Homo sapiens: one gene and its partners. The protein of the gene in region 1 purifies or fractionates together with the protein of each later gene. This does not show direct contact. Each region holds a gene or a part of one and is shown on either strand. Other genes may lie near its edges. The genes, in order: ERN2, DNAJC3 and UGGT2.

What was found.
Region 2: the proteins of ERN2 (region 1) and DNAJC3 purify together in Homo sapiens (affinity purification with mass spectrometry; one large-scale study listed by BioGRID and IntAct). This does not show direct contact.
Region 3: the proteins of ERN2 (region 1) and UGGT2 purify together in Homo sapiens (affinity purification with mass spectrometry; one large-scale study listed by BioGRID and IntAct). This does not show direct contact.

What each region holds. Positions count from the first base shown.
Region 1 is NC_000016.10:23,692,921-23,696,276, forward strand, and holds part of ERN2 (serine/threonine-protein kinase/endoribonuclease IRE2 isoform a precursor), read right to left. Parts: intron 3,059-3,356; coding exon 2,974-3,058; exon of another isoform or gene 2,811-2,973; intron 2,470-2,810; coding exon 2,280-2,469; intron 2,199-2,279; coding exon 2,099-2,198; intron 2,008-2,098; coding exon 1,808-2,007; intron 1-1,807. UniProt on the Homo sapiens protein: Induces translational repression through 28S ribosomal RNA cleavage in response to ER stress. Pro-apoptotic. Appears to play no role in the unfolded-protein response, unlike closely related proteins.
Region 2 is NC_000013.11:95,683,545-95,687,194, reverse strand, and holds part of DNAJC3 (dnaJ homolog subfamily C member 3 precursor), read right to left. Parts: intron 1-3,650. UniProt on the Homo sapiens protein: Involved in the unfolded protein response (UPR) during endoplasmic reticulum (ER) stress.
Region 3 is NC_000013.11:96,046,820-96,050,469, forward strand, and holds part of UGGT2 (UDP-glucose:glycoprotein glucosyltransferase 2 precursor), read right to left. Parts: intron 1-3,650. UniProt on the Homo sapiens protein: Recognizes glycoproteins with minor folding defects. Reglucosylates single N-glycans near the misfolded part of the protein, thus providing quality control for protein folding in the endoplasmic reticulum.

The DNA of each region.
Region 1 (3,356 bases):
GTTACCCAGCCCGATCTTGAACTTTTGGCCTCAAGCGATTCTGATTTTTTTTTTTTTTAAAGAAAATCCAGAAATCCAAATTTTATGTGGAATTTCTCAAATGTTAAAATATTGGGCCAGGCATGTGGCTGACACCTTGTAATCCCAGCACTTTGGGAGGCCAGGAGTTCAAGACCAGCGTGGGCAACATGGTGAGACCCTGCCTCTACAAAAAAATACAAAAATTAGCTGGGTGCCATGTTGTGTGCCTGTAGTCCCAGCTACTTGGGAGGCTGAGGTGAGAGGATCCCTTGAGCCCAGGAGTTTAAGGCTGCAGTAAGCTGTGATGGTATGACTGCACTCCATGACAGAGCAAGACCCTGTCTCAAAAATATATATATATAGGGCCAAGCACAGTGGCTCATGCCTATAATCTCAGCACTTTGGGAGGCCGAGGTAGGTGAATCACCTGAGGGCTGGGAGTTCGAGACCAGCCTGGCCAACATGGCATAAACCCCATCTCTACTAAAAATACAAAAATTAACTGGGCATGGTGGCACCTGCCTATAGTCCCAGCTACTAGGGAGGCTGAGGCAGGAGAATCACTTGAACCCAGGAGGTGGAGGTTGCAGTGAGCTGAGATCATGTCACTGCACTCCAGCTTGGGCAACAAGAGCGAAACTCCATCTCAAAAAAAAAAAAATATATATATATATAGGCCACTAATTTAAATATAAACTGTATAGTCTCATGACATCATGCATTTAGTCCTTGAGCCCTGCTCACCACTTTGAGCTTTCTCTCAACTTTAGGAGTGGGGGCAGCCTTCCCTGGTGACTGTCCTTTTGTGTGATTGGCATCCATTTCTCTGGCTTCAACTTCCGCCCACACACTGTGACTCAAAATCCGTAATTCAGGGGTCCCAAACGCAAGTGTCTGTGTGGGTCAGACGCTGCTCTGTGTATCAACTAATTAGCTCATCTGATGCCCTCCAAAACCTTCGATACCAGTGGTTCTGGAACTTGGCTCCACATAAAAATGACCCAGGCAATTAGGTAAAAATCACGGGGTGTGGGGCCTGGGGTTTTGTTTGTTTGTTTGTTTTTTGTTTTTTGAGAGAAAGAGTCTCACTCTGTTGTCCAGGCTAGAGTGCAGTAGTGTGATCTTGACTCTGGAACTTCCACCTCCCAGGCTCAAGCGATCCTCCCACCTCAGCCTCCCAAGTAGCTGGGACCACAGATGCACACACCCACACCGGCTAAATTGTGTGTGCTTTTGGTAGAGACGAGGTCTCCCTAGGTTACCCAGGCTGGTCTCGAACTCCTGAGCTCAAGCAATCTGCCTGCCTCGGCCTCTCAAAGTGCTGGGATTACAGGCGTGAGCCACCGCACCCGGCAATGGGCATTCTTTTTTTAAGTTGCGCAGTGGTTGTGAAGCACAGTGAAGATTACAAACCATTTTCTAGCTCAGGGTTTCCCAACCTCAGCACAACTGGCATTTTGTTAGTTCTTTGTGTTGGGTGTTGTCCTGTCCTGTAAGACATTTAGCAGCATTTCCAGCAGATGCCAGTAGCCCCTCCCTCCCAAGTCATGGCAGTCAAAAATGTCTCCAGACATTGCCTAATGTCCCCTGGGTGGCAAAACAGTCCTGATACTGCTGTAGAAGGAGGGACAAATTATCCCTTCTTTAAGGGAAACAAGCTTGGAGGAGCAGCTCAAAGTCACACAGCAAGTGTCATGGAGTCTCCTCAGGAGGGGAACTGGGACAGGGACGGATTCCTGCAGCCTGGGGCAGCTGTGTGCCTGGAGGACTTGGTGGATAGACTCACAGGACTGTCTGGTGGCAGGAGCTGCAGAAGCTCGGGCGCCATCCAGCCTTCCGTGCCGGGGATGCCGGAGTGGAGGCTGAAGCTACAGCGGCCAGCAGGCAGCTTCTTGCAGAGGCCGAAGTCTGAGAGCACCACTCTGCCCAGGCCCTGGCTGTCAGGCCCGGTGATGAGAATATTTCCTGGCTTCAGGTCCCGGTGCACTGTGGGAGAGGGGCAGAAAGAAAGCTGGTTGCTGAGGGCGGAAGGCAGGGGCTAAGGACAGGGAGCGGGAGGCAGGGGAAGTGCGGGTACCTATGTGTAAAGAGTGCAGGTGGGCCAGGCCAGACATCAGCTGCTGCAGCACGACCTCGGGCTCCAGACCCCCGCGATCCAGGTCCGGGTTTTCTACGTACTGAGCAGCAGCAAGGGCCAAAGCATCACTCTCCAGCCCGGACCTTCCCACTCACCCTCCCTGAACCGCAATGCAACTCACCTCCTGCAAGGAGGCCCGGCAGAGCTCCAGGGCAATGTAGTGGAACTGGGGTCCCCGCTCGGTGCAGAAGTAGCGGAGCACGTTGGGGTGCCTGTCAGACTCCTGCAGCAGTTGAACTTCCCGCCGAACCAGGCCAAAGCACTCGCGGAGGAGCCGCTTGACAGCCACTGCCCGTCCCTCAAACTGTCCCCTGGAAAGTGGGTGATGGCGGGGGCAGGGGGGCATTCAGGGAAAGCAGATAAAGGGACAAACATGGTGGCTCACACCTGTAATCCTAGCACTTTGGGAGGCCAAGGCGGGCGGGTCACTTGAGGTCAGGAGTTCGAGACCAGCCTGGCCAACATGGTGAAACCCCCATCTCTACTAAAAAAAATATAAAAATTAGCCGGGCATGGTGATACACACCTGTAATCCCAGCTACTGGGAAGGCTGAGGCCCGGAATTGCTTGAACCTGGGAAGCGGAGGTTGCAGTGAGCTGAGATTGCACCACTGCCCTCCAGCCTGGGCAACAGAGCAAGACTCAAAAAAAAAAAAAAAAAAAAAAAAACAGATAAAGGAAAGAGCAGGACTGGCGAGTGAGGGATCAACCTGTACCCACCTCGGGGAGTCTTTGAAAGAATGTCTCTCCAGGGGACAGTGCCCACGAGGGCTGTGAGTGCCATGTCCCCAGCTTGGCTCCTGGCTGCCACTCACCGGAAAACGAAAGTCCCGCCTGCCCCGCGGCCCAGCACGTCCTTGGGATTGAAGGAAATCTTCCCCACTACGGTGAGTTGCTCAGCTGGGGGAGAGGAGGGTGGTGACTCAGGGAGCCTCTGCCCACCTTTGCCGGCCACTGGCCCAGTCCAGACTCACCTTGACATTTTCTGGGCCTCCACCCTCCCATGCTCAGCCTGGTGCAGTGGGTAAGAGCAAGGGCCCAAGTGCCAGACTGTCTGGATCCAATGCCTGGTGCTGCCACTGATTCTTTGTCTACTTAGGCAAATTCCTCACTTCTGTGCCCTCGGTATTCTCATCTGTAGAGTGGGGAGCTAAAGCTAAAGAGCCCACACAATATTATTGTGAGGATTAAATGGATA
Region 2 (3,650 bases), on another chromosome or scaffold:
TCTATACACCAACAATATTCAAGCCAAAAACCAAATCAAGAATTCAATCCCATTTACAAAAGCCATATGCAAAAAAATAAAATACCTAGGAAAACACTGACCAAGGAGGTGAAAGATCTCCATGAGAACTACAAAACACTTATGAAACAAATCATATATGTCATAAATAAACACAAAAACATCCCAGGCTCATGGATTTGGAGACTATCATTAAAATAACCATACTGCCCATAGTAATCTGTAGATTCAACACAATTCCTATCAAATCACCAATGTCATTTTTCAGAGAACTAGGAAAAACAATTCTAAAGTCCATACAGCACCAAAAAAGGGCATGAATAGCCAAAGTAATCCTAACCAAAAAGAACAAATCCAGAGGCATCACATTACTTGACTTCAAATTATACTACAAGGCTATAGTAACTAAAATGGCATGGTACTGGTACAAAAATACGCACACAGATCAATGGACTACAATAGAGAACCCCAGAAATAAAACCACATACTTACATCCAACAGATTGATCTTTGACAAAGCTGACAAATATAAACAACAGGGAAAGGACACCCTAATTCAATAAATGGTGCTGGGAAAATTGGCTAGCCATATGCAGAAGAAACTGGATCTCTGTCTCCCAGCATATACAAAAACTACCTCAAGATAGATTAAACATTTTGGACATTGGCCTAGGCAAACAACTTATGACGAAGACCCCAAACACAAATGCAACAAAACCAAAAATAAACAAATGGGACTTAACTAAAAAGCTTCTGCACATCAAAAGATAATCAACAGGGCAAAGAGACAAACTACAGAATGAGAGAAAACATTTGCAAATTATGCCTCCGACAAAGGACTAATATCCAGAATCTACAAGACACTCAAACAACTCAACAAGAAGAAAACAAAGAACCCCATTAAAAAGTGGGCAAAGGGCCAGGCGCACTGGCTCACGCCTGTAATCCCAGCACTTTGGGAGGCCAAGGCGGGTGGCTCACAAGGTCGGGAGATCAAGACCATTCTGGCTAGCACAGTGAAACCCTGTCTCTACTAAAAATACAAAAAATTAGCCGGGCATGGTGGCAGGCACCTGTAGTCCCAGCTGCTTAGGAGGCTGAGGCAGGAGAATGGCGTGAACCTGGGAGGCGGAGCTTGCAGTGAGCCAAGATCGTGCCACTGCATTCCAGCCTGGGCGACAGAGCAAGACTCTGTCTCAAAAAAAAAAAAAGTGGGCAAAGGACATTAAGAGACATTTCTCAAAAGAAGACATACAAGCAGCCAACAAACATGAAAAAATGTTCATCACTAATCATCAGAGAAATGCAAATTAAAACCACAATGAAATATCAATCATCTTACACAAGTCTGAGTGGCTATTACTAAAAAGCTTAAAAAAAAATAGATGTTAGCATGGAGGTGAAGAAATTGTAACACATATATGGGTGGCAGCAATGTAAATTAGTTCAACCACTATGGAAAACAATATGGAGATTTCTAAAAAAAAACAAAAAACCTACCACCAAGCCCCAACTCCAACATTAGGGATTACAATTCAACATAAGATTTGGGTGGGGCACAGATCCAAACCATATCATTCCGCCCCAGCTCCTCCAAAATATCATGTTCTCACATTACAAAATACAATCATCCCTTCTCAACAGCCCCCAAAGTCTTAACTCATTCCAGCATTAACTCAAAAGTCCAAAGTCTCATCTGGGACAAGCCAAGTCCCTTCCACCTATAAGCCTATAAAATCAAAAACAAGTTAATTACTTCCAAGATACAATGGGATTATAGGCATTGGGTAAATAGTCCCATTCCAAAAGGGTAAAACCGGCCAAAAGAAAAAGGCTACGGGCCCCATGCACGTGCTAAAACCCAGCAGGGCAGTTATTAAATCTTAAAGCTCCAAAATAATCTCCTTTGACTCCATGTCTCACATCCAGGGCATATTGCAGCAAGGGGTGAGCTCCCAAGGCCTTGGGCAGTGCCACTCCTGTGACTTTGCAGGGCTCAGCCCACGCGGCTGCTGTCAAGGGCTGGCAATGAGTGGCTGCAGCTTTTCCAGGTGCATGGTGCAAGCTGTCAGCGGATCTACCATTCTGGGGTCTGAAAGATGGTGGTCTTTCTCACAGCTCCACTAGGCAGTGCCCCAGTGGGGACTCTGTTGGGGGCTCCAACCCCACATTTCCCCTCTGCACTGCCCTAGTAGAGATTTTTCCATGAGGGCTCTGCCCCTGCAGCAACCTTCTGCCTGAACATCCAGGCTTTTCCATATATCTGAAATCTAGGCTGAGGCTCCCAAGCCTCAATTCTTGGCTTTCAGCACCTGCAGGCTTAACAGCATGTGGAATCTTCCAAGGGTTTGGGCTGGCACCGTCTGAAGGCCTGAGCTATATCTGGGCCCCTTTCAGCCATGGCTGGAGCTGGAGTAACTAGGATGCAGGCAGCAGTGTCCTGAGGCTGGCAGGGCCCTGGCCCAGGAAACTGTTCTTCCCTCCTAGGTCTCTGGGCCTATGATAGAAGGAGCTGCCTTAAAGGTCGCTGAGATGCCTTGGAGCCCTTTTTCCCATTGTCTTGGCTATCAGCACTTGGCTCCTCTTTACTTATGCAAATTCATGCAGTCTGCTTGAATTACTCCCCTATAAATGGGTTTTTCTTTTCTACCACATGGTCAGACTGAAAATTTTCCAACTCTTCTGCTCTGTTTCCCTTTTAAATGTAAGTTCCAATTTTACATCATTTCTTTGTTCATGAATATGAGCACTGGCTGCTAGAGGCCAGGTCACATCTTGAACACTTTGCTGCTTAGAAGTTTCTTCCACCAGATACCCTAAATCACCTCTCTCAAGTTCAAAGTTCCACAGATCCATAGACCAGGGGTACAATGCCACCAGTCTCTTTACTAAAGCATAGCAAGAGTGGCCTTTACTCCAGTTCCCAATAAGTTCCTCATCTGCGGTCATTCTGAGCCCTCCTCAGCCTGAACTTCACTGTCTATACCACTATCAGCATTTTGGTCACAACCATTCAACAAGTCTCTAGGAGGTTTCAAACTTTCGTTCCTCTTCCTGTCTTCCTCTGAGTCCTCCAAACTGTCCCAACCTCTGCCCATTACCCCATTCCAAAGTTGCTTCCTTCTACAATTTCAGGTATCTTTATAGCAATGCCCCACTCCCAGTACCAATTTTCTGTATTAGTCCATTCTCACATTGCTATAAAGAAATACCCGGAACTGGGTAATTTTTTTTTTTTTTTTTTTGAGATGGAGTTTTGCTCTGTCACCCAGGCTGGAGTGCAGTGGTGCAATCTCGGCTCACTTCATCCTCTGCCTCCCAGGTTTAAGCAATTCTCTGCCTCAGCCTCCCAAGTAGCTGGGATTTCAGGCGCCCACCTCCACAACAGGCTAAGTTTTTTTTTTTTTGTATTTTTAGTAGAGACGGGGTTTCACCATCTTGCCCAGGCTGATCTTGAACTCCTGACCTCGTGATCCATCCACCTCGGCCTCCCAAAGTGCTGGGATTACAGGCGTGAGCCACAGTGCCCAGCCGGAACTGGGTAATTTATAAAGAAAAGAGGTTTAATTGGCTGACGGTTCTGTAGGTTGTACATGAAGCATGGCTGGGGAGGCCTCAGGAAATTTACAATCA
Region 3 (3,650 bases), on another chromosome or scaffold:
TATCCTGCGCATGGCTTGAAGAGTCCCATGTCCACGGAGCCTCCCTCATTGCTAGCACAGCAGTCTGAGATCCAACCGCAAGGCAGCAGTGAGGCTGGGGGAGGGGCACCCGCCATTGCTGAGGTTTGAGTAGGTAAACAAAGCAGTCTGGAAGCTTGAACTGGGTGGAGCCCACCACAGCTCCAGGAGGCCTGCCTGCCTCTGTAGACTCCACCTCTGGGGGTCAGGGCATAACTGAACAAAAGGCAGCAGAAACTTCTGCACACTTATATGTCCCTGTCTGACAGCTTTGAAGAGAGTGGTGCTTCTCCCAGCACGGAGTTTGAGATCTGAGAACAGACAGACTGCCTCCTCAAGTGGATCCCTGAACCCCAAGTAGCCTAATGGGGAGGCACTTCCCAGTAGGGGCCGACTGACACCTCATACAGCCGGGTGCCCCTCTGAGACGAAGCTTCCAGAGGAACAATAAGACAGCAACATTTGCCGTTCTGCAATATTTGCTGTTCTGCAGCCTCTGCTGTAGATACCCAGGCAAACAGGGTCTGGAGTGGACCTCCAGCAAACTCCAACAGACCTGCAGCTGAGGGTCCTGACTGTTAGAAGTAAAACTAACAAACAGAAAGGACATCCACACCAAAATCCCATCTGTACGTCACCATCATCAAAGACCAAAGGTAGATAAAACCACAAAGATGGGGAGAAACCAGAGCAGAAAAGCTGCAAATTCTAAAAATCAGAGTGCCTCTTCTCCTCCAAAGGAACGCAGCTCCTTGCTATGTGAGAGAGACACACATAGGCTCAAAATAAAGGGATGGAGGAAGATCTACCAAGCAAATGGGAAACAAAAAAAAGCAGGGGTTGCAATCCTAGTCTCTGATAAAACAGACTTTAAACCAACAAAGATCAGAAGAGACAAAGAAGGCCATTACATAATGGTAAAGGGATTAATTCAACAAGAAGAGCTAACTATCCTAAATACATATGCACCCAATACAGGAGCAACTAGATTCATAAAGCAAGTCCTTAGAGACCTAGAAAGAGATTTAGACTCCCACACAATAATAATGGGAGACTTTAACACCCCACTGTCAACATTAGACAGATCAACGAGACAGAAAGTTAACAAGGATATCCAGGAATTGAACTCAGCTCTGCACCAAGCAGACCTAATAGACATCTACAGAACTCTCCACCCCAAATCAACAGAATATACGTTCTTCTCAGCACCACACCGCACTTATTCCAAAATTGACCACATAGTTGCAAGTAAAGGACTCCTCAGCAAATGTAAAAGAAGAGAAATTATAACATACTGTCTCTCAGACAACAGCAATCAAACTAGAACTCAAGATTAAGAAATTCACTCATAACCACTCAACTACATGAAAACTGAACAACCTGCTCCTGAATGACTACTGGGTACATAACAAAATGAAGGCAGAAATAAAGCTGTTCTTTGAAACCAATAAGAACAAAGACACAACATACCAGAATCTCTGGGACACATTTAAAGCAGTGTGTAGAGGGAAATTTATAGCACTAAATGTCCACAAGAGAAAGCAGGAAAGATCTAAAATTGACACCCTAACATCAAATTAAAAGAACTAGAGAAGCAGGAGCAACCACATTCAAAAGCTAGCAGAAGGCAAGAAATAACTAAGATCAGAGCAAAACTGAAGGAGATAGAGACACAAGAAAACCATTCAAAAAAATATCAATGAATTCAGGAGCTGGTTTTTTGAAAAGATCAACAAAATTGATAGACCGCTAGCAAGACTAATAAAGAAGAAAAGAGAAGAATCAAATAGATGCAATAAAAAATGATAAAGGGGATATCACTACCAATCCCACAGAAATCCAAACTACCATCAGAGAATACTATAAACACCTCTACGCAAATAAACTAGAAAATCTAGAAGAAATGGATAAATTCCTGTACACATACACCCTCCCAAGACTAAACCAGGAAGAAGTTGAATCCCTGAATACACCAATAACAGGCTCTGAAATTGAGGCAATAATAGCCTACCAAACAAAAAAAGTCCAGGACCAGACAGATTCACAGCCAAATTGTACCAAAGGTACAAAGAGGAGCTGGTACCATTCTTTCTTAAACTATTCCAATTGATACAAAAAAAGGGAATCCTCCCTAACTCATTTTATAAGGCCAGCATCATCCTGATACCAAAGCCTGGCAGAGACACAACAAAAAAAGAGAATTTTAGACCAATATCCCTGATGAACATCAATGCAAAAACCTCAATAAAATACTGGCAAACCAAATCCAGCAGCATCTCAAAAAGCTTATCCACCATGATCAAGTGGGCTTCATCCCTGGGATGCAAGGCTGTTTCAACATATGCAAATCAATAAACATAATTCATCATATAAACAGAACCAAAGACAAAAACCACATGATTATCTTAATAGATGCAGAAAAGGCCTTTGACAAAATTCAACAGCCCTTCATGCTAAAAACTCTCAAATTAGGTATTGATGGGACATATCTCAAAATAATAAGAGCTATTTATGACAAATCTGCAGCCAATATCATACTGAATGGGCAAAATCTGGAAGCATTCCCTTTGAAAACTGGCACAAGACAAGGATGCCCTCTCTCACCACTCCTATTCAACACAGTGTTGGAAGTTCTGGCCAGGGCAATCAGGCAGGAGAAAGAAATAAAGGGTATTCAATTAGGAAAAGAGGAAGTCAAATTGTCCCTGTTGGCAGATGATATGATTGTATATTTAGAAAACCCCATCATCTCAGCCCAAAATCTCCTTAAGCTGATAAGCAACTTCAGCAAAGTCTCAGGATACAAAATCAATGTACAAAAATCACAAGCATTGCTCTATGCCAATAACAGACAAACAGAGGGCCAAATCATGAGTGAACTCCCATTCACAATTGCTTCAAAGAGAATAAAATACCTAGGAATCCAACTTACAAGGGATGTGAAGGACCTCTTCAAAGAGAACTACAAACCACTGCTCAAAAAAATAAAAGAGGACACAAACAAATGGAAGAATATTCCATGCTCATGGATAGGAAGAATCAGTATCGTGAAAACGGCCATACTGCCCAAGGTAATTTATAGATTCAATGCCATCCCCATCAAGCTACCAATGACTTTCTTCACAAAATTGGAAAAAACTACTTTAAAGTTCATATGGATACAAAAGAGAGCTCGCATTGCCAAGACAATCCTAAGCAAAAAGAACAAAGCTGGAGGCATCACGCTACCTGACTTCAAACTATACTATAAGGCTACAGTAACCAAAACACCATGGTACTGGTGCCAAAATAGAGATATAGACCAATGGAACAGAGCAGAGCCCTCAGAAATAATACCACACATCTACAACCATCTGATCTTTGACAAATCTGACAAAAACAAGAAATGGGGAAAGGATTCCCTATTTAATAAATGGTGCTGGAAAAACTGGCTAGCCATATGTAGAAAGCTGAAACTGGATCCCTTCCTTACACCTTATACAAAAATTAATTCAAGATGGACTAAAGACTTAAATGTTAGATCTAAAACCATAAAAACTCTAGAAGAAAACCTAGGCAATACCATTCAGGACATAGGCATGGGCAAGGACTTCATGTCTAAAACACCAAAAGCAATGGCAACAAAAGCCAAA